3 linked regions of the Homo sapiens genome follow. The protein of the gene in region 1 purifies or fractionates together with the protein of each later gene. This does not show direct contact. Each region holds a gene or a part of one and is shown in the gene's direction. Other genes may lie near its edges.

The links.
Region 2: the proteins of RGS13 (region 1) and LIN9 purify together in Homo sapiens (affinity purification with mass spectrometry; 2 studies listed by BioGRID and IntAct, with this or other methods). This does not show direct contact.
Region 3: the proteins of RGS13 (region 1) and SLAMF1 purify together in Homo sapiens (affinity purification with mass spectrometry; 2 studies listed by BioGRID and IntAct, with this or other methods). This does not show direct contact.

Annotation. Positions count from the first base shown.
Region 1 is NC_000001.11:192,631,716-192,639,148, forward strand, and holds the start of RGS13 (regulator of G-protein signaling 13), read left to right. Parts: upstream 1-4,431; 5' UTR 4,432-4,602; intron 4,603-5,874; 5' UTR 5,875-5,945; intron 5,946-6,448; 5' UTR 6,449-6,488; intron 6,489-7,433. UniProt on the Homo sapiens protein: Inhibits signal transduction by increasing the GTPase activity of G protein alpha subunits thereby driving them into their inactive GDP-bound form. Binds to both G(i)-alpha and G(q)-alpha.
Region 2 is NC_000001.11:226,299,160-226,306,182, reverse strand, and holds part of LIN9 (protein lin-9 homolog), read left to right. Parts: intron 1-1,819; exon of another isoform or gene 1,820-1,921; intron 1,922-4,977; coding exon 4,978-5,010; intron 5,011-7,023. UniProt on the Homo sapiens protein: Acts as a tumor suppressor. Inhibits DNA synthesis. Its ability to inhibit oncogenic transformation is mediated through its association with RB1. Plays a role in the expression of genes required for the G1/S transition.
Region 3 is NC_000001.11:160,644,040-160,651,977, reverse strand, and holds the start of SLAMF1 (signaling lymphocytic activation molecule isoform b precursor), read left to right. Parts: upstream 1-4,933; 5' UTR 4,934-5,032; coding exon 5,033-5,108; intron 5,109-7,938.

The DNA of each region.
Region 1 (7,433 bases):
CCAAAGTAGGTTTCTGAAGCTTCTGGGATTGCAATTTTTAAAATTCTTTGCCTTTTCTACAAAACTAAACTTGTTTTATCTAATCTTATTTGCATTATCATATCTTTCAGAGGTTTTAAGATATAGTGTCATAATCCTAAAGAAAAACATTTGCCTTGTATTTTATTCTAGTTCCTTGTTTGACTAAGTCACAAGGACACCATTGTTTAAATTTGCATGCCTCATAAAAATATATATTTGTGTAAATTATACTTACAAAGCATCTCCAGATATATCTCATTAACCACTACACAAATTATAGGTTACAAAAAGGTTACAGTCAGAGAGGCAGAACTACTTCTTAGGAAAGTATGAGATATGGGAAGCTTGTACAATATAATCCTTCCCAAACTTCACCCTATAATTTTTATCTAAGTGAAAATTGGTTAAAATGAACATTAGGGTAGTTTTTAGCTTGGATAAATCCTGTTGGGAAAAAAAAACTATATCCATCTATTCTTTGAATATTTATTGAGCATCTACTACATCAGTCTGAATGCTATGTCCACATATGCATTTGAAGCATGAATGAGAAAAGTGGGAGACTCCTTTGGTAAAGCAGGGAGAAGGAATGCAGGCTAATTCTGAGCTCTGCGCTCTTTTAGTCTCTCCTATCAGCTGACTGAGGTACCTATTTCTTTTAAAATGTTCCCTGCCTCTGATTCACTACCTAGCCATCTACTGCCCTCAATCACCAGACACCACGTAAGTCCTGAGGATAGATTTGTTTCAAGAATAAGACAAAAAGTATTTCAATGGTGATCTACAGAAAAACCATTTTAATTTCTGTGATAAGAAAAAAAAAACCGGAAATGTGGCACAAGTATGTTTGTTCTGTACTTCTATAGTAGAAAATTTATATACTTTGCACATGGCAGAACAGGACAGGCTTATCTAAACAATAAGGGATAGTGAGTTGATTAGGTGATTGGAAACAGGCTTCAGCTTTGCAACTGCACATCAGTGGGCCTTGTATGTTCAAAGCATTCCGCATCTAAAGAAGCAAACGATGCTTTCCATCTGTGATAACAAGGAAATGCTAAAGTTCCAATTTCCTTGACATTTTATTGCATTTACTTTTATCTAAAATGAGTATATAACATTATCTTATATAAAAGGAAAGCATGGTAGACGAGACATATCTTGAAAATCTTCTCTCTACCAGACATCCAGAAATGCTAAAAAAAAATATGTAACAACCCCATTTAAATGCATAGGCAAGCTTGCCAAAACTAAGAGAAATCAAGAAAAAAACAGAGGGAATCCTAAATCAGAGTGATAAACTGGCATTTAAAGTTTAGCTGAGTTCAGCATTTGCTAATCTCAGTAACCTAGAGATCTGGCTTTTAAGATCTGTTGCAAGCCAGGAAACAAAATCAAAGGCTGTCCTAATATGAGCCGGGGGCTCTTGAACTGCTATACCTTCAGTGAAACAGCAGACAGAAAAAAAACAAGTCACCTACAAAAATTGATGACAGGAACATGTCTATTTCAGCATAAAACCAGGTCTGTAATTTAAATTTACCCTACCTGTGTGGTCCAGGAGACCCAAGCTAAGAAAATAACAAAGCAGTCTTGTGTTAGAGAAGTGCCTGGGCTGCCTGACAGAGCCAGTGCAAATCCTCTTCAAAGGGACGTGCCCTTAACCCCATCCTTAGAGAATTTCACAGATCAAACAATGTGAAAGTACAAAAGAGCTAATAGACTCATCTCAGTGCAAATTAAACAACTGTGGAGTGTCTCCTTTTTTTTTTCCGGGAAAAGAACACTTTCCTATGTTAATGTTACCCCAAATACACTGGTGGAAACAATAAGATTTGAATGAATTCCCCAGAATTTAGTCAGGAAGGACAAGACAATCCACCAAGTGCTCAGAAGAAAATAGAAACCAAGTAGGACCACTGGTTTTTTCAATTACATGCTGGAGATCTGAAACCTGAGAGCACTGCCGACTTTCTGGAAGGGCCAAGAGAATGGATTTAAAGCAGCTACCAAAAGGGAACTAAGAATGATTGGGAGTTAGTGACTAAACTTTATAGCATAACAGGACCATGATTATAATTAAAGACATCTTTAAAGCAAATCATCTGAATAAATGCACACAGAATTGGTAACTAACTTTAATTGCTACTGAGGTTTATTTTATGCTAACAATAGTGTTCAATGCTCAGTAATCTCTTCCTAATTTTTGTTGTCGGTATATTTTGGGTTCACACAAGTCAGAAACCAAAGTTAGATTGTTTCTAATTGGCAGCAAACCAGAGGGGACGGGAGACTGGTCAAGTCTCTGAGTCGTCCACTCCAAGATGCGGACAATGAGTGTATGAAGACAGACTGAGAATGCGCTGCAAAGAAGCTTGGAAGAAAATGAAGGCAGAGAGGACAGACCTGAAAGGCTAAGAGGGACAGATCAGCGTCCATGGAAAGCAGGAGCAGAAGCCAGTCTTCTTCCAAACACTGGCACAAACCACTGCCTACTGGATACATTTCACCAGACAATTCACCCCAGTGTCCAAGAGTTTATCTTGCTTCTAGAATATATTGAAAAGAGCCACCCTCTGAACAAATGGCAAACACTATATAGTATAAATAGGATGCACTGAAAATAGTAGGCTTATTTCTTAAGCTGTCATCACGAACATTAACCAGTAATTATATTTCTCCACTTTTTGTAGAAGACATAAATGGCAAATTCTGAATTTATAATTTCTAATACTTCATTTTTCTGCTCTTGTAAAGTTCATTTTGAACTTTCAACATAAAAATATTAAAGATTTTTAATTGTGCACATTTGAACTTGTGTTACTTTGGACTTACATTGGCTGAAATTGAAATATAGTAAAAGTGCTCTAGAGTAAGCAGATCAGTTCATCAGAAGGACAGCCTTTCAATGGAAAGGGCATTCCCAAGCTGCACCAACGAAAGCATAATCCTGTTACCTGCCCTAACCTGACAGCTCTGAATTAGTCTGATCCACCTATGTGCCGTACAAAGCATTATATTGCTATGATTTCATAAACTGAACTTGAACTACACTTTTTCAGAGAAACAAAACCATGTTTAGAAATCTGCCACAAATATCTACACATTGCTCTTGAATTCCTCCAGGAATTTCCACCTACTCGTGCTGTTACTCTTCACTCTATGATTTATTTGTTTTTCAGTCCCTGTCGATACTTAAGTTTTACTCTGTAGGGAGATTCTCATGTTTGACTCCATTAAACAAGCTTTGAAACTGACACTCGCACAGGGTGTTACTTCCAGAATCTTCCTGCCAGCTCCTTGCATCCACACCATGAGAAAGAGCAAACATTCCAAATCCCAAAAAAATGAATTATTTGGGGTGAGGAAAAGTCTTGACTATGACACTGAAGATTTCCTGAAGAGATCCAGCATCCAAAATGTCCTGAGTGGGGAGGAAATCGCACACCTAGCACCCAGAGAAAATGAGTGCTATCCACAAACAACCCAGATCCTCCCAAGCTGAGGCTAACCTGCCCTTCACTTCCTACATTATTGCTACATCTACGCAGCTTCTGACTTTCCAAAGTTTCCTTTCCTTTTCTAGTCCCAAACTTATCTCTCAGGTTTGAGAAATTCAATTTTCTTGGGTTTGAATCTCAAAATTATAAAAGACAAGTAAGGTTAATCTTCTATCTCATTGGGCCCCTAAATATTTTAAGAAACACTCCATCAACCACATTTTGATCTTCTTTACTGCTGTTTTATTCTAGCATTTCTTTACTCCTACCTCTCTGTTTCTCTCTCTCTCTCTCCCCCCAAACCCCCCAACTCCCCCACCCCTCCCCACACACACACACAATTGGAGTAAATCCAGGACAAGGGCATTCACAATCTTACCATATTCTGTATTCATTAGACCTTATCTTAAGCACTGTGTTCAATTCAGATTTTGAAGGCATGTTAACAAACTGTAGAACAACGGAGTCCAGAACTGCTGTAGAGGACCAGTTGAAGGAACTAGAGAGGTATAACTAGAAAAGATACTTTTTTAGATCCTTCAGTTGTTAAAAGTCCCTAGTAATCTATTACAAACAGATTGATTTTAATAGTTCTCAACCATTTGCTAACATGTGTTTGCAGTGATGTCCTATGTGTTTGTACTCAGTTCTCTGTCTTTTTTAAAAGGGAATTTTACTTTAGACTATACATTTTCTAAAACTAGAAAAATTATTTTGGAGAAAAAGATTTGAGTATTACTTTGAAGATTTCATGAAGCTGCTGCTTCCAATCATCTGATCACTTCAGATGGTCTGATAATGTTAGATAAAACCTCTTTATCAGTAATGCACTGGAGTCCTACAGCACTACTTTCCATATTCAACAAAACCTCTCTTTGCATAGATACGTGTGTGTAAAAACAGAACATTCATACTGAGGCCAGAGTGCCATCGAAGGTAATTATAGAGACAGTAAAATCCTTTTACTCTGGGAAAAATAAAATGCTGGGTGTCTCACAAAATTTCAGAACCTGATTTCAAACGGATCATAACAAAGAGGAGATCAAATTTAGCATGGTGGACTGCTCGACAGGATATATTTGTAAGTATGAGATTCTATAAAATAGTTGATAAATACAAGACTATTGGCTTGCTATAAATCACTAGCAGATGCTGATTTCAATGGTAGAACTTCTGGGAGTGTTAACAGAGGTTTTTCTAAGAAAAAAAGACAAACTAACAAACACATATTCTTTTGCCTGGCTTTCTATATTTAAAACAAAACTTAGAGTCACTCCTTATATAAATAAATCTTCTAAGTTGGGCAACAGAGGAAATGCTACAGTTTTAAAGTATATTATTTCATTTTATGTTTTTGTGTATATTTTCATTTTAAATGTTTTTCATTTTATATGTTTAGATAAAAACATATTATAAAATCAGACATAGCTGAATTATTTGTTTCAAAAATCATGCATTACCAAATTATTAGTTCCATCCTTTGTTAACTGTACTGAAGCCAGGTGTGGATTATTATAAGGTTTATCTGAAACATTGTTAATCTTGATTTTGTAGAATTTTTTTATTCTTTTATGTTATGCTTAAGCACAACTATGCACAAATTTCTTGAATTTTTTAAAGGACAAGAAATTTGTGTGCTGTGGTCAACAAAAGCTCACTAAAATATAAATTGCTCCAAATTTTACTAAATTTTATGTAACATGCTATATCATAAAATAAAGAAACATATTTAAATGCAGATATATGTAAACAGACAGAATTGCTTTAAGAAAATTTATTTATTTTCATAATACTTTAAGATTTCATTTAAATAATGGAGGAAACAAATCTAATTCTGGCATACTACTAATACAACTCAATCCATTACCAATGCATTTATAATCACTCTGAGAATTAGATTCTATCGGTGAAATGTATTTCTTTCAAATAATTATCAGGAGAAAACAGTGGAGGCAAAATCATCGTGGAGACCTAAACTTGTTCTAAACACTCTATGTTTCGATTGTAAAAGTACACACTAGTTTTACCAAGAGGGTATTGAAAAACAAAAAAGGAAAGCAAATTAATACACAATATTAAGATAAATATAGATTATTTAAATAAAAAGTAATGGAAAATTACAAATTAAAACAGTAAAGAAATTTTTATAATAAGCCATGATATTAACACAATTTTAGATAAAGAGTTAATAAATAAAAATGGGAATAACCATAATCCAGCATTTCCGAGGTGGAAAAAGTATTTACTTAAAACTTAAGAGCATTTACAGTAATCTTTGCCAAATATGCATTCTCCAGGAAGCACACAATAATCTTTTTGTTTTTGTTTGGTTTTGTTATTATTTTATTTTTAGGTCAATGGAATGTTTCCACATATTATACCACCAACATGAGAAAAAAATGATCATTGTTTATTTGAAGCTTGGTGAGTTTATCCACAATTTAAATCAGTTCTACGTCATGCCAATTTAGATCACTGTTTCACTGGGAATTCTCTTTTTGCCAAAGTAGATTTGTAGTTCTATAAAATATTTAAAGTTATTTTTTATTTTTATCCATATTGACTACTTGAACTCTAATTTTAAGGGTACAACTAAAGATGCCCTTGGTTGGATTTAACTAACAAAATAAATTTATCAATAGGATGTTTTAATCAAATCCTTATCCTAAAGAACTTTACTTTTGTAAAAAATTAGAACATTCCCTTTATGGAATTACCAAGGATATTTCTTAGAAGTTCTCAATTGTAAATGTGAGAGGATTTCATTCTGCCACTCTATATTGGTGCTATTAAACTGTCGATTGAGATGTATTATTTAATGATAAATATTGTTGAATGTAGGATTGTAGATACTTCTTTTTAAACCAATGGTTATTTTGCAAATTCTTTGTCCTCAGACTGTGAATTATATTTTCTTATTTTATCAGATGATATTCTAACGCTGCCTTTTCTCTTCTCATTTTAGAGGTATGAGAATTTTAATTTCTACTTCTGAGCATCTGCCTTCCATCTTCCAAAATTACTTTGGAATATTTTGTCATTATTTTTCCCCTTGGTTAATCTCCTTTTTCCTTCAGTTTAAGCCGTACATGTTCCTTTACTATAATATTATTAGTGTTTGGGTTGGAAGAGATAATAAACTCAGGTGGTCAATCTGACCTTTTGTACCTGAAGCTGGGTTAAGTATTTTTTAATTTATCTCTTTGTTTCAATGTAGAGAGTGTTATAAGGATGGGGGTGGGGGGTTCTGTGATATTCCAACAAAATAGTGGTACATGGTACGTGTGAATCCAGTAGTAATCAATAGAGAGAAACACAAACATGTGGATGGACTTTCAGTCCCAGAAATCTTAGAATACAGGCGGGAAGGCACCAGGCTCCAGGCACAGGAGCAGAACTCTAGTCACTGGAACAGCGTCCAGTCTCCAGTTCCATTTCCTAAAGGACAGGAATACCAGAGAACTTCTTATAGTCTATTTATTCTATGCATAACAACTCTTAGGGTCTATTTATTCTATGCATAACACATGTCATACACAATTCTGTCACTAAATATTTTCTGCAATTTAATCATTGATGCTTTTATGACATTATATTCTATTTGTATTCCATAATTTAATAAATCTGTAAATGTTTGACTTAGAATGCTAACCAACATATAAACAACTACTTATATGTAATCATCAAATAACATTCGAATGTAACAATTTAGGAAACTTAAAGTCTAGTAGGAGTAGATAAATCAGAAATATAAATAACATTATATCTATATATATTGCTTCTTTTTCAATGTCACCTAACTAATAAGTTGCTTGGACCAAAGAACCCTCACTGAATCAGTCATGTAGCTGAGCACAGGGCTACTATTAGTGTACACAGAGTCTTTGCTGGAATTATTAAAAAGTAGCCTTT
Region 2 (7,023 bases), about 34 Mb from region 1:
TGGCTAATTCTTGTATTTTTAGTAGAGGCGGGGTTTCACCATGTTGGCTAGGCTGGTCTCAAACTCCTGACCTCAGGTGATGCACCCGCCTCAACCTCCCAAAGTGCTGGGATTACAGGGGTGAGCCACCGCGCCCCCAGCCACTTTCCTCCCTTTCACTTCCCATATTTAAGCCTTTACTAAGTCTGTAAATTTTACCTTCTAAATATCTATCAATTCTACCCATTTCTTACCATCAGCATAGCCCAAACTGTTACCATTTCTTCTCTTTACCAATTACCTCAGCCTCTCATTAATTCAGCCCCCTTCCCACAAACACACAGCGAGAGGGATCCTTTCAAAACGAATGTATGTCATCCTCCTGTTACAAACCCTTTAGTAGCTATAAGACCCTTTGTGGTCTGGCTGCTCCCTACCTCTCAGCTTTATGTTTTACCACTTGTCCCCTCATTCTATCCCTTGGGGTAAATTGGACCTTTTTCATTCCCGATACTCGCCAGTCTCCCCTTTTCTCCAGGGTCTTTGCACATGCTGTTCTCTCAACCTGGAATGCTACCCCCCCACACCCCCCTTACTTTCAGTTAACTTCTAATTGTCTTTTAGATCCCATTTTATGCTTCTTCAGAGAGCCATTTCCCATCCTCCCTGACTAAATTATGTCTTCTTTAAATCTGTTTTTTGTTTTTTAAAGAGACAGGGTCTCCCTCTGTTGTGTAGACTGGAGTGCAGAGGCATGATCGTGGCTCACTGCAGCCTTGATCTTCTGGGCTAAGGAGATCCTCCGGCATCAGTCTCCCCAGTAGCTGGGACCGCAGGCATGTACCACCATGCCCAACTAAGGTTTTTTTTTTTTTTTTTTTTTTTTTTCTTTTTTTTGTAGAGACGAGGTCTCCCTATGTTGCTCAGGCTGGTCTCAAACTCCTGGCCTCAAGCGATGCTCCTGCCTTAGCCTTCCAAAGTGCTGAGATTACAGGCTTCAGCCACCATGCAGGGCCTATCTTTATTTTTTTTTAAAGATGGAGTCTTGCTCTGTCACCCAGGCTGGAGTGCAGCGGTGCAGTCTTTGCTCACTGCAACCTCCGCCTCTAGAGTTCAAGCAATTCTCCTGCCTTAGCCTCCTGAGTAGCTGTGATTACAGATGTGTGCCACCAAGCCCGGCTAACTTTTGTATTTTTAGTAGAACCTGGCTGGTCTCGAACTCCTGCCCTCAAGTCATTTAGCCCCCCAAAGTGCTGGGATTACAGGTGTGAGCCACTGTGCCAGGCCAGGCCCATATTCTTTAAATCTTTTTGTATTACTATGTAACTTCCTAGTGGCAGCTATTACAGTTGCAGTTTTGTATTTGTTTATGTGATTGGTTAGTAGCCCCATCAGAGCAGGTACTGTCTTAATTGCATTCCCAGTTCCATGCATAACACCTGGCTTACCTCTGCCCTTTCATACCATTCTTCCCTATGCAAGCACAGTCACCCCTCCTCCCTTCTTAGGACTTAACCTGTTTCTTCTGCCCAGACTCATTGCTTTGATTTCCTGCTCTCTCACAGCTAGTTTTTTAGATGTTACCTCCTCAGAGAAACCGTCTGTACTCAAAAGTAAGGTAGCTAGTACTTAGAGTAATTCCCCCGTCCCCACCAATATCACCCTGTTTATTTCCTTTATCATGAGCTATAATTATTATGTACGTGTTTTATATATATATGTCTCTTTCCACTAGAGTTTAAGCTTCCTGTGAGGAGAGGCTTTGTTTGTCTTGTTCTTTGGGGTAACCCTCGCCCCTAACAGTGCTTATGGTAGGCATTCAATAAAATTTTTTTTTCCACATCAGATGGGTCATGTGCTGACTTTTCACAAAGTTTGAGAGAGACACATCTCACACATGAGTATGAAAACCCAATCATCATGCTTATGAACTAAGAAGGGTAGAATCTTTGGATTAATGAACACCTCGTTAGAGCAAGATTCTAATTTAATCAGATTCGCCTGACTGAAAAATCCATGTTCTTAACCTATTATTTTTTGATTGCTCAAAATAATACTAACAGCATTATATCAAAATTAACTGTGTAATATATGCATTGTTCTATGCACTTTTACATGTATTAACTCATTTAATCCTCATTTTACACATGAAGAAACAATAGCACAGAGAGGCAAAGTAACTTGCTTAAGGTAGCATGCAAGAAAGTGTCAGGACCAAGATTCAAACATAGCTAGTCTCAATCTAGAACCTGTTTTCTTAACCACTATGCTATCCTGCATCTAGAAAAAGGAAAGAAGGACCGGTTGCGGTGGCTCACGCCTATAATCCCAGCACTTTGGGAGGCCGAGCCGGGTGGTCACCTGAGGTCAGGAGTTCGAGACCAGCCTGGCCAACATGGCGAAACCCTGTCTCTACTAAAAATACAAAAATTAGCTGCGTATGGTGGCATGCACCTGTAATCCTAGCTACCTGGAAGGCTGAGGTGGGGAGAATTTCTTGAACCCGGGAGGTGGAGGTTGCAGTGAGCTGAGATTGCGCCACCGCACTCCAACCTGGGTGACAGAGTGAGACTCCATTTCAAAAAAAGAAAAAGAAAAAAGAAAACGAAAAAGAAAAAAAAGGTTAAAGGTGATTGGTCAGAATCCCCAAGATATGGTTCCTGCCTTCGTGGAGCAGGAGTGGATATTCTTATGGCCTATATACCTCTTCCTTCAGATCTCTGCTTAAGCATCACCTTTCATAGAAGCTCATCATGAACACCTTATATACAAATAGTTTTCCTTCCCTCCATCCCCACCCTGCGTATTCTTCTTCTTCTGCTTTATTTTTTCCAGAGTGCTTATCATTACTCGATAGCTGTTTTTGTTTGCCTCCCATCACTAGAATGTACATTCCATGAGAGCAGGGACTTTGACTATTTTGCTTGCTGTTGTATTCCCATTGCCTAGAGCAGGTAGGGACTGGCATGCCATCAGTACTCTACATATTCAGTGAGTGAATGGTTACTACTTTTTCTCAAATGCACTGCATATCTTTTGGTACACAGATGTGTGTATTGTCTACTATTGCTGCTTTACAGTTGTGTTTCATTGTTTGAGACTTTTTAGCAAGATTTTATGTCATTCACCCCCATGACTTTACTGCCTTTTGTCATTAAGCTTCATTTGCCATGCAGAAGCTTTTATGGTGTCCTGTTAACTATTCTTCACATCTGGGCAAGAGAGTAGAGTGAAAGTAAGTGTCTTTAATGCTAATAGGTGTCTGTTTCACAAGTCTCTTACACAGACCTGTGGAGGAAAAAGTCAGTTGAGGTTTAGTGATCAGAGATGCATAGTGTTTAAGGATCTGAGATGAAGTGTTTCATAACTGCCATACTTTATCTGTTGCTTCTCATTTTAAGTCTGTTATCCATTTATATGAGATGTAAATCATAGCTGCTTTTGTTAAATAGCAAGGAGGATTAATCCGTCCTCTCTGATTTTTGTTCCTAGTTCATGTTCTTTTTTATTTAATCCCCTGAGATCATCCTTAATTATTATTTTTCAGATGACTTGGACTTTGCAATGTATACATCCAATTCTGAGATTTTTAAATTTAGTGCTTTCTCACTCTCAAAAAGCTTCTTTCTCTATTGGTTTGTTTTTTTTTTTTTTTTGGACATGGAGTCTCACTCTGTCACCCAGGCTGGATGGAGTGCAGTGGCGCAATCTTTGCTCACTGCAAGCTCTGCCTTGTGGGCTCACGCCATTCTCCCACCTCAGCCTCCCGAGTAGCTGGGACTACAGGTGCTCGCCACCACACCCAGTTAATTTTTTGTGTTTTTAGTAGAGACGGGTTTTCACCGTGTTAGCCAAGATGGTCTTGATCTCCTGACCTTGTGATCCGCCCACCTCGGCCTCCCAAAGTGCTGGGATTACAGGCGTGAGCCACCGCACCCGGCCTCTCTATTGATTTTTCTACTTTCCCTACCCATAGATCCTATAATTCATTCACACCAGAACCTGTAGCCTGATGTTTCTCAAAGTGGGTTACCTGCAACAGAATCCCCTGTTGTTTATTAATAATATAGATTCAGTCTAGATTTTGCATGTATGAGGAGCTTCCTTGTTATTCTAATGTCTTTTTTATTTTTTTGAGGCAGAGTCGTACTCTGTCTGTCAGGCTGAAGTGCAGTGGCACGGTCACAGCTCACTGCCGCCTCAACCTCCCAGGCTCCAGCAGGCCTCTCACATCAGCCCCCTGAGTAGCTGACACTTTAGGCACGTGCCCCCATACCCAGTGAATTAAAAACATTTTTTTAGAGACAGGATCTCCTTATGTTGCCCAGGCTGGTCTCAGACTCCTGGCCTCAAGCTAGCCTTCCCACCTTGGCCTTCCAAAGCACTGGGATTACAGGTGTCAGCCATCATACCTGGCCTCTAATGTACACTGGAGTTTGTTTTATCCAGTGGACCCCTCCAACTTTATTCTAGCCCCTCTTGGCCATTCTGTATTCCCTTTTCCAGCTTAGATCTTGAAGTATCACATATACCTGCATTCTAGACTTTCAAGGGACTTATTGCTTGCTCTGACAGTCCCTGAATCATTTCCATTGCCTGTTTTTTTCCACTCCATTACTACATCAGTCTTTGCCTCAATGGATGTCGGTTCCCTTTCTCTTTTCTTCCAGCACCACAGCACGCCTGGATGAGGATCCAAAATTACCTCTGTCCCCACTCTTCCTCTTTCTTCTGTTTCTTCACTTTCTTCTCCTGGAATGGTCTCCAGTTCTCACAACTTCAGCAAGACTCTCATATGTCTCTCTCCAGTTCTTTCTTTATCTGAGTTCTGGTTTATAGTTTGAATTGTCTGCCAGATATTTCGAATTGCACATTCCACCATCTCTTCAAACTCAACATTACTAAAACTAAATGGATCACTTTTACCCCCAAACCAAGGTCTTTTTCTCTCACTTTGGTTATGAAATAATTATTGATTTGTTTTATTTTTAATTGCAGGCTCTTCAGCAAAAGCCCTTGTCAGTTTAAAAGGTAAGAAGTATAGCATTTTTAGGTATACCATAGCTAAAAGTCTAATTTGTTAAATTAATCTGGATATAGTGTTTCCATTTTCCTTCTAAGTTATGATTCATTGTAGCTTTTCAGTATTGGTTTTCACTGATAACCTTAAATTAATATGCTTTTATAGGAGAATTGATCCTCAGTTGTTAGAAATTATTTTTAAAAATTTCTAAAATTATTGATTAAAAACCTTTCTAATTAAACATTCCATAAATATTTAGATTAAAAGCATTTGTTAAACGACTGTGCTGACCTATATGTTAGCATAATTGTTTGTTTGTTTGTTTTTGAGACAGTCTCTCTCTGTTGCCCAGGCTGGAGTACAACGGTGCAATCTTGGCTCACTGCAACCTCTGCGTCCCAGGCTCAAGCGATTCTCCTGCCTCAGCCCCCTGAGTAGCTGGGATTACAGGCATGTGCCACCATGCCTGGCTAATTTTTGTAATTTCAGTAGAGACGGGATTTCACCATGTTGGCCAGGCTGGCCTCAAACTCCTGGCCTCAAGTGATCTGCCCACCTTGGCCTCCCAAAGTGCTGGGATTACAGGCGTGAGCCACTGTGCCCAGCAGATTTTTTGTTTATTTATTTTTTGAGACAGGGTCTCGCTTTGTCACACAGGCTAGAGTGTGGTGATGTGATTACAGTTCACTGTAGCCTCGACCTCCTGGGCTCAAGTGATCCTCTTGCCTCAGCTTCCCATGTAGCTGGGACCACAGGCACATGCTACCATGCCCAGCTAATTTCTTTATTTTTTGTAGAGAGGAGGCCTCACTTTGTTGCCCAGGCTGGTCTCGAACTCCTGGGCTCAAGGGATCCTGCTGCCTCAGCTTTGCAAAGTGCTGAGATTACAGGCATGAGCCACCACACCTGGCCCGTAATAGCTTATTTTTAAGAGTCTTGCTTTCACTGGGCACGGTGGCTCACGCCTGTAATCCCGGCACTTTGGGAGGCTGAGGCAGGCGGACCACTTGAGCTCAGGAGTTCGTGATTAGCCTGGCTAACAAGGTGAAACCCCATCTCTACTAAAAATACAAAATTATCCGGGAGTGGTGGCAGGTGCCTATAATCCCAGCTACTTGAGAGGCTGAGGCAGGAGAATTGTTTGAACCTGGGAGGCAGAGATTGCCGTAAGCCAAGATCGCGCCACCACACTCCAGTCTGGGAGTCTGGGTGACAGAGTAAGACTCTGTCTCAAATTCCAAAAAAAAAAAAAAAGAATCTTGCTTTCTAAGTAATAATGTCTTGAAATAAAAATAAAAGAATAATAGTACTTTTCTCATTCTAAGAAAAAGTTTGACATGTTCCTTGGTCTCACTATTTCTTTTGGCAGGTACATTAGACTAACCTTTTTAACATAGTTTCTTTAAAATTTTACCTCTTGATTAAGATTCTGGTAGGTCAATAAATTTGGAACCAAGCTAAATATTCTCAAAGTACTTTTAGTCTTTAAAGCTACTATATTGTGCTTTGGATTGGTGATTTACCAAATTAAATCCTTCTAGCTTGAGAAGACAATTTGTCTTCCAGAACACCCCAGTTTGTTTGTCTTTTGTGATTCTTAAAAATTATTCCATTATTCTTTTTCTCCCAATATTAAACTCATTTCTCTCCCCCCTGCCTTTTTTTTTTTTTTTTTTGAGACTGAGTCTCGGTTTGTCGCCCAGGCTGGAGTGCAGTGGCACAATATCTTGGCTCACTGCAACCTCTGCCTCCTGGGTCAAGTGATTCTTGTGCCTCAGCCTCCTGAGTAGCTGGGACTGCAGGCATGCATCACCACACCTGGCTAATTTTTGTATTTTTAATAGAGATGGGTTTTCATCATGTTGGCCAGGCTGGTCTTGAACTCCTGACCTCAGGTGATCCTCCCACTTTGGCCTCCCAATGTGCTGGGATTACAGATGTGAGCCACTGCACCCGGCACTCATTCATCTTGATAAATCATTTATATAAGTAACGTACATTTCTTATGGAAAAAATGAGAA
Region 3 (7,938 bases), about 32 Mb from region 1:
CCTGCTTCTTACTGCTACCAAGATCAATGAAGTAACACTGTGGAAACCCCAGGCATCCAGGGAGTTCAATAGCAAGATTTCCTTCCTCCTTATTCTCTTGAGTATTCATGGTGATACTCACCAGGAAAAAGGAAAGAGCTCTGATCAGTGTCAGGATTCCCAAGTTTGGTCCAGATCCTGCCTTACAAACACCACCAGCTCCTTTGCAGGGCTGTTAGGAGGATCAAATAAGGCTGTGAATGTGAAGGCTTTTGAAAATGGCTTTGTAACTACAAGGCACTATCACCTGTATATCTTCTGTTGTTGGTCTGTTGACATCTGCTCTTAATAGCTCAAGGAAGCAGCTCAGTATACTAAATGTACTAACTGCAAATCTCTGGTTAGTCACATTGCCCCTCAGGTCCTGTATTAGTTTCCTGTGGCTGCTGTAAAAAATTATCACAAGCCTGATGACTTAAAACAACAGAAATTCATTCTCCCACCGTTCTGTAGGCACAAGGTCTAAAATTAACATATTGGCAAGACCTGCTCCTTCTGAAAGCTCAAGGGGAGAATCTTTCTCTGCCTCTTCCAGCGTCTGGTGGTCTCTGGTGTTCGTTGAATTGTGGCTGCATAGCTCTAGTCTCTGCTTTGTCTTTTCACATGGCCATCTTCTTTGTGTCTCTGTGTGTCCTTTTTCTATTTCTTAGAAAGATGCACTACTCTCATTGGATTTGGGGATCACTCTGATTCACCCAGTATAATCTCATCTCAATTCTTACCTTAATTACATCTGAAAGATCCTGATTCCAAATAAGTCCACATTCTGACGTTCCAGGTGAAGAAGAATTTGGGGGCAGAGAGGACTCTATATAGAATCCACTCTAGAACCTCAGAACCTTCATCTAAACCATTTCTGACCCTCATTCAATGTATGTTTTTATTTAGTTCTAGATTGCACCAAACAGGAAAACTCTTCATATAGTGCCTAGCATTAGCTCAGTTATCTGTGTAGAGGGGATCCAGGAGATCAGAGTGGAGAGGCCTCATAGCGAGTCTAGAGAAGGTCTAATTCTGGAAATGAGAGGAAGGGCAAAGTAAACAAGAGAATAAGTGTCTGTCTTTGAGAGAGGAAGGTTTGACATGAATAGACAGCATGCATTCCAGGAGCCGTGCAGCTTGAGGAGAGAACACCAGTCTTGAAATCAGACCTGGATCATTGGTTTCCCATTTTTACAGGATGCCAATATTCTCACATCATTTAGTTATTTCAACTGATATTTTATGAATACGTAGACAGTATGCCATTCACTCCACCATTTGGATTCTCAGTTATTGTAACAGTGGTGTGTTGGTAAATGGTTAAGAGCCAGATCTCTGAAAAATAATATATGCATATATGTAAATGAGCTTGTTATAAATTTTGCTTATACGAAGAATGTGTAACACGCAATTTATAAAATAAAATTTATTGTATTTTAATAAAATGTACAATCCTCTTTATTGTAAATTCCATATAGCCACAGATCTCACAGGCTGTTTGCTTTCATATTGGCTTAATTCATATCCACAGCCAAACTGTGTTTACAAGTGACAAAGGAATGTAGTTCCAACATGAATGTTGGTTAATGTCTTTTTTGAAGTTAAAGAAATGTGAAACAACAAAAACATATGTTGGAACATCACTTGCTCATCAGTGACACTAGTGACTTTTTGCTGAATCAGATGATAGTTTTTGAATACTGGAAAAATGTTTCCTCAATTTTTTATGCTAATCCTAATGTAAGGGCCATAGTCATGGCACATGTTTAAGTTTACTCTGCATCATTATGTTTTCTCTATTACTTTCTTACATTTAGACAATCAACAAAACAGTAAAGTTCTGATTTATATTGCTTGCTGATTTCCATGGCATAAACTCTCACCATGGCCAGTTTCAAGCTCCCAACACTATGCCATTGAATGCAGAGTGGGGAAGAGAGGTCCAGAAGCACCAATGTTCCAGTATTTAATTTCCACTGTAGACACATAAGAGATGTCAATTACCTCAAGAACATAGATATCAGTAATGTCATAAAATAATTAAGAAACAATGAGCTTTGAGATTTTATTCCCTCTATTTAATATAATTTATTTAGTTGTGAAGTTTTTTTTAAAGGCAGGGTTTTGCTCTGTTGCCCAGGCTGGAGTGCAGCGGCTATTTACAGGTGTATTAGTCCACTCTCACACTGCTATAAAGATACTACCCAAGACTGGGTAATTTATAAAGGAAAAAGGTTTAATCGACTTGCAGTTCCACATGGCTAAGGAGGCCCCAGGAAACTTACAATCATGGTGGAAGGCAAAGGAGAAGCAAGGACCTTCTTCACATCACAGTAGGAGAGAGAAGAGCAGCCAAGAGCAGAAAATACTGCCTTATAAAACCATCCAATCTTGTGAGAACTCACTCACTGTCTTAAGACCGGCATGGAGGGGAAACTGCCCCCATGATCCAATCACCTCCCACCTTGTCCCTTTCTCAACACTTGGGGATTATGGGGATTACAATTCGAGATAAAATTTGGGTGGGGACACAGCGGCAAACCACACCAACAGGCATGATCATGATAGTCCGTTTTCACACTGCTATAAAGATACTACAGCCTCAAACTCTTGGGCTCAAGGGGTCCTCATGCTTCAGCCTCTCAAGTACCTGGGACTACAGGCATGTACCACCATGCCCAGCTTAACTGTAAGTTTATATAATTTAATTTAATTTTATATGTTTAATAATGGCCATGTTCATCAAGCACCTCACAAGATTCCTGAAAATCTATTTTTTATTTTTATTAAAAAAAATTGTTTGTAGACATGAGGTCTCACTCTATCGCCCAGACTATTTTCAAACTCTTGGCCTCAAAAATTCTCCCACCTAGGCCTCCACAAATGGTGGGGTTACAGGCGTGCCACTGTGCCCATCCAGATTCCTGAAAATTTAACAATTTTATGAGTTGGTACATGCTGACTCGAGCACACACCACTGGGAATAGTTGTGAGGAGGACAGTTGAGTGCTGGGGAAAGGAAGGAAGAAAACAGTGAGGATAAAGTTCACATATCTCACCAGCTTTTATTACCTGATCCCCATGGGGAGGCCCATCAGAGAGTGCCTATGACCTGTTACAATGGACTCTAAAAACACTTCCCTACTCTTTCAAGTCTCCCTGTGAGCATTGGTTACACTTCCAGTATCCCATTCTTATAGTTTAACTCATGAAAAAGGGCGGGATCCTCCTTCTGCCAATACTAGTTCCTTCTCCTCAATGAAAAGTTAGACACAAACTCCAAAATAAAGGCAACTCCCAGAATACAACACAGCCCCAATTAAATTAAAATGGCTTTTATCCAAAAGACAGGTAATAACAAATGCTGACAAGGATGTGGAGAAAAAGTACCCTTGTACACTGTTGTTGGGAATATAAGTTAGTACAACCACTGTGGAGAATGGTTTGAAGGTTCCTCAAAAAACTAAAAATAGAGCTACCATATGATCCACAATCTCACTGGTAGGTATACACCTAAAAGAAAAGAAATCAGTATATTGAAGAGATATCTGTACTCCCATGTTTATTACAGCACTATTCACAATAGCCAAGGTTGGAAGCGACCTAAGCGTCTATCACCGATGAGTGGATAAAGAAAATGTGGTACATATACACAATGAAGTACTATTCAGCTAAAAAAGAATTAGATCCTGTCATTCACAATGACATGGATGGAATTGAAGATCATTATGTTACGTGAAATAAGCCAGGCACAGACAGACAAACTTTGCACGTTCTCACTTGCTTGTGAGAGGTAAAAATTAAAACAATTGAACTTGTGGGCATAGAGAGTAGAAGGATGGTTACCAGAGGCTGAAGGGTAGTGGGGGTTGGGGAAGAAGTGGGGATGGTTAATGGGTACAAAAAAATAGAAAGAATGAATAAGAACTAGTATTTGATAATACAACAGTGTGACTATAGTCAATAATAATTTAATTGCACATTTAAAAATAAAAATATAATTGCACTGTTTGTAACACAAAGGATAAATATTTGAGGTGATGGATATCCCATTTACCCTGTGTGATTATTACATATTGCATGCCTCTATCAACATATCTCATATACCCCATACAAATATATGCATACCCCATACATATATATATACATACACACACACACACACACACACACACACACACACACACACACACATATATGTATATCTACTATGTACCCACAGACGTTAAAAATTAGAGGAGAAAACACACACACAACAAGGAGACTGAGCTGGAAGGATGGAGCTCTGGGATAGATTTGTCCTACATCCCTGCCTGGGAGGGAATCCACACACATGCAAGAAGACAAACTAGGAGCATGGGCTACTAAATTATACCACATTGCACTCATCGGGGTCACAGGGTTTCTTCCAAGTGACCCGCACATGCCCTTCCCATCTCTGTGTGACAGTGGCACCTGCACCAGACTGCATGTTGAGGTGTCATCTGAAATTATGAAATAAAACAGAAGTAAGAGGTCTATTAGCTCATCAAAATGCAGTTATCTAAGTTCAGCTGTGAACTGCCAAATTTGAGGAGTGATCCAATGAAACATCTTTTCTTTGCAATCCAAGAAGACTTACCGGAGAGAACTGCTCAGAGAATCTGCAACATCCGGTTCCTGGAGACAGCTAAGGAAAGAAGCTGGGGCGCATGTTTCTGCCCAAAGCCGGGTTTTGGCCGAGGTGACTACACACCCCCTTTCCTGGCTCCCATAGGCTAAGTGCCTGGCTTCTTGAGAAGCCTGCTTCTTGAGAACAAAAAAGTGATTTAAAGCCTCATGGGAGATGAGCAATCCTCAAGACACAAGCAGAAAAAGTCCCAGTGATACAGGAAGCGGGTTCAGGAACCTGCTGGTTCCTGATACATAAATCAGACAGCCTCTGCTGCATGACACGAAGCTTGCTTCTGCCTGGCATCTGTGAGCAGCTGCCAGGCTCCGGCCAGGATCCCTTCCTTCTCCTCATTGGCTGATGGATCCCAAGGGGCTCCTCTCCTTGACCTTCGTGCTGTTTCTCTCCCTGGCTTTTGGGGCAAGCTACGGAACAGGTGAGTGTTCATCTGCCTGATGGTTTGAGTCCCATGTTAGCTGCCAGGAATCAGCGTATCTTCGTGGATGGAGAGAAGGTGCAGGGCTGGGTATTGTGTTTGGTCACTCTTCCTTAGGGACTGGCTGTCAGTTTCAACTGCCTCTTTCAAAGAGGAAGGAACATTATAAGTTCCTGGGCCCTTGGGTTTCCAAGACTCAGCCCCACCAACCCCAGTTTCCAAGGAAATGAGGGGCTCTAAGCCAAAGGCTCCAGTCACTTTTCTGACCAGTCTTAGGGTGACAGGCCCTGGTAGAAGTCTTGCTTGAGTGGTTGGTTTTACATGGGCATCTTCTGGCAAAGACCCAGCCTAGAGAGACTGAGCTGGATGGACTGAGCTCTGGGAGAAGATTTGCCCTACATCCCTGCCCTGGGAGGGAATCTGTGCACATGCAGGCTGACAAACCAGGAGCATGGGTCAACAGAAAGCATTGGCTAGAGTGGGAAGAGAGAGTAGAAGTGAAAACTCCAGGCTTTTGGCTGAGAACCAGCAGTGGCCACAGTGCGGTCATACTGGTGTGTATTTTCTTGGAAGAGAAGGTCCAAGAAAGCAAGAGGGAAGAAGTTGGGATTTCTGAAGGCTAGGGCTGGTTACAGTATGTGGGAAATGCAAATTGGGAACCCTCAGAGAGTAGCTCCAGCAGGAAGGCCAGACAAGAGCTACCTTTGGATCTGGACTCTGTTCCTGTCTTTCTGTCTATCTTCTTCCCAAGGCAGGCTATTGCTTTCTGTTTAGAAGTATCAGGGCTATGAGAAAAGGTATTTGAGAAAGAAAAAGCCAAGCAAGAAGTGGACTTTGGACTGCCTGTGTGAGTGGGGTGAGAATCTCCTTCTGCTTATTTGTTTAGACTGTGGGAGGTAGCCTGGAGTAGAAGAGGTGGCATTACGGACACGGGGGGAAATCCTGAGGCCCAGGGTGTTTTAAGCTTGGGGTTTTCAAGACCGCAAATCCAATATGGACTTTTCCAGGAAAAGCACCGTGATATGCCAGGGATGTGGGGGTGCTGCACAATGGATGTGTCTTTTACCAGACAGCCAGACGAACAGGGCTTGCTCAGCCCACTTTCTTTTGGAATCTGCAGATCCATGGCTCGTACTTCCCAAGGTCTAGGGGAGGAAGAACTGAGCTCGGGGCTCAGAAAACCAAATCGAGCCACTTTAAGTGGTCACAGGGAAAGCCAAGCCTCCGTTGTTGCAACCAATTTGTGACTGCACCATTTCTGGAGCACCTCTTGGTGACTGTAAGGTGTGATGGAGTGATGGTGCTGAACTGTGAACTGGACTTTTCCATCTCTGTGCTTGCTAGCCTCTTGGCCAGCCTGGCCCATAGCATCTTAGGCACTGCTGACCAATAGCTCGTCTTATTGAGGCTTTGGAAGTCGCCGGTCAGGGAGAAGCAACCCAGCCCCACAAGGCAAGTCTATCCAATCGGAGGCTGCTCACTTCATTGCATGTTTTCTTCTTTGAATCTTCACAAAAGTTTTTCAGTGTTTTTATTTTTAAATACACACCCTTTTGTGAAGCCCCAATAAAACCCAGACAGAAATGCTTTGCAAATGGGGCAGGTTAGTCATGACAGATTTGCCCAAGCAAGAAGCTTGATTCTTGTAAAACTGGCATCCACTCCCATTCTCATTTCTACTCAGCTCAACTTCTAATTCCCAGTCAGAATTGTAAAAATCAAAAAGTCCACATGTCCCTTCCCCAAGTAAAGTGAATTTTTCATTTCCCCCGATGAGATTTGTTTTAATAGACTTTATTTTTTAGAGCAGTTTTAGGTTCACAGCAAAGTTGGGCAGAAAGAACAGAGATTTCCCATATGCCCTCTGCCCCATACATACATAGCCTCCCCTATTATCAATATCCCCCACCAGGATGGTACATTTGTTATAATTGATGACCTTATGTCAATGAGTTTTTTTTATTCCTCCATGCAGTTCCTCTGCACCCCCTTCACACACTTTGGGGGAAGGTGAGGGACAAGTGCGTGGGTTCTAGACTTGGCCTAACCTTGCGTGTTCAGTGGCCCATTCTATCCCAAGATGTCAATCTAGGCACTTCTATTTCTCAAAAATATTAATACTGTGATGTGATGCTGTCACTTTCACTGTCTCCCTCACTGGACTGGAAATCAGAGTATCAGGGCTAATTGGTTTAATCCATAGATTTGACTTTGAATGATCCCATTCAGCAACTATTAAGGACACATGATGTGGCAGCCACTGTGCAAGGGTGCAAGGTGTGGGGAAAACAAAATGAACAACAGCCACTGCCCAGCACCTGACACTGTGTCTGTACTGAGAGCCTGTCCACAAATATTTGTTGAGTGAATAATACTGGTATATACTGCATACTTGCCATATACCAGGCACTGTTCTAAATGCTTTATGTGTGTCAGTCATTTCATTTTCACACCAACCCTATAAGAAATGTATGTATTATTGGTACCATTACAACTTTATAAATGAGGAAAGGGGCACAGAGTAGTTTAGCAATTTCTCTGCGCTCACATAGCTGCCTGACTCCAGAGGCCTCAATGAGTAAAACTGGACAAGCCTATGTTTGGGAAGCAGGGGTGGAGAGAATGCCAAAATTTGTATCCAGGTCCCATGGTAAAAATTAGAATGTGCTATCTATAATTGAAAAATATGAGTTGAATTGAATTGGAATAAATTGAAGTATAGAAATGTCCAAAAGGTGAGAGACTGATAAAAATCACAGAAGAACGTAGAGGGCATATAAGAAGTATTTGACCTGGAATTTGGAAAATGAAAACTTTTTTTCATCATGCA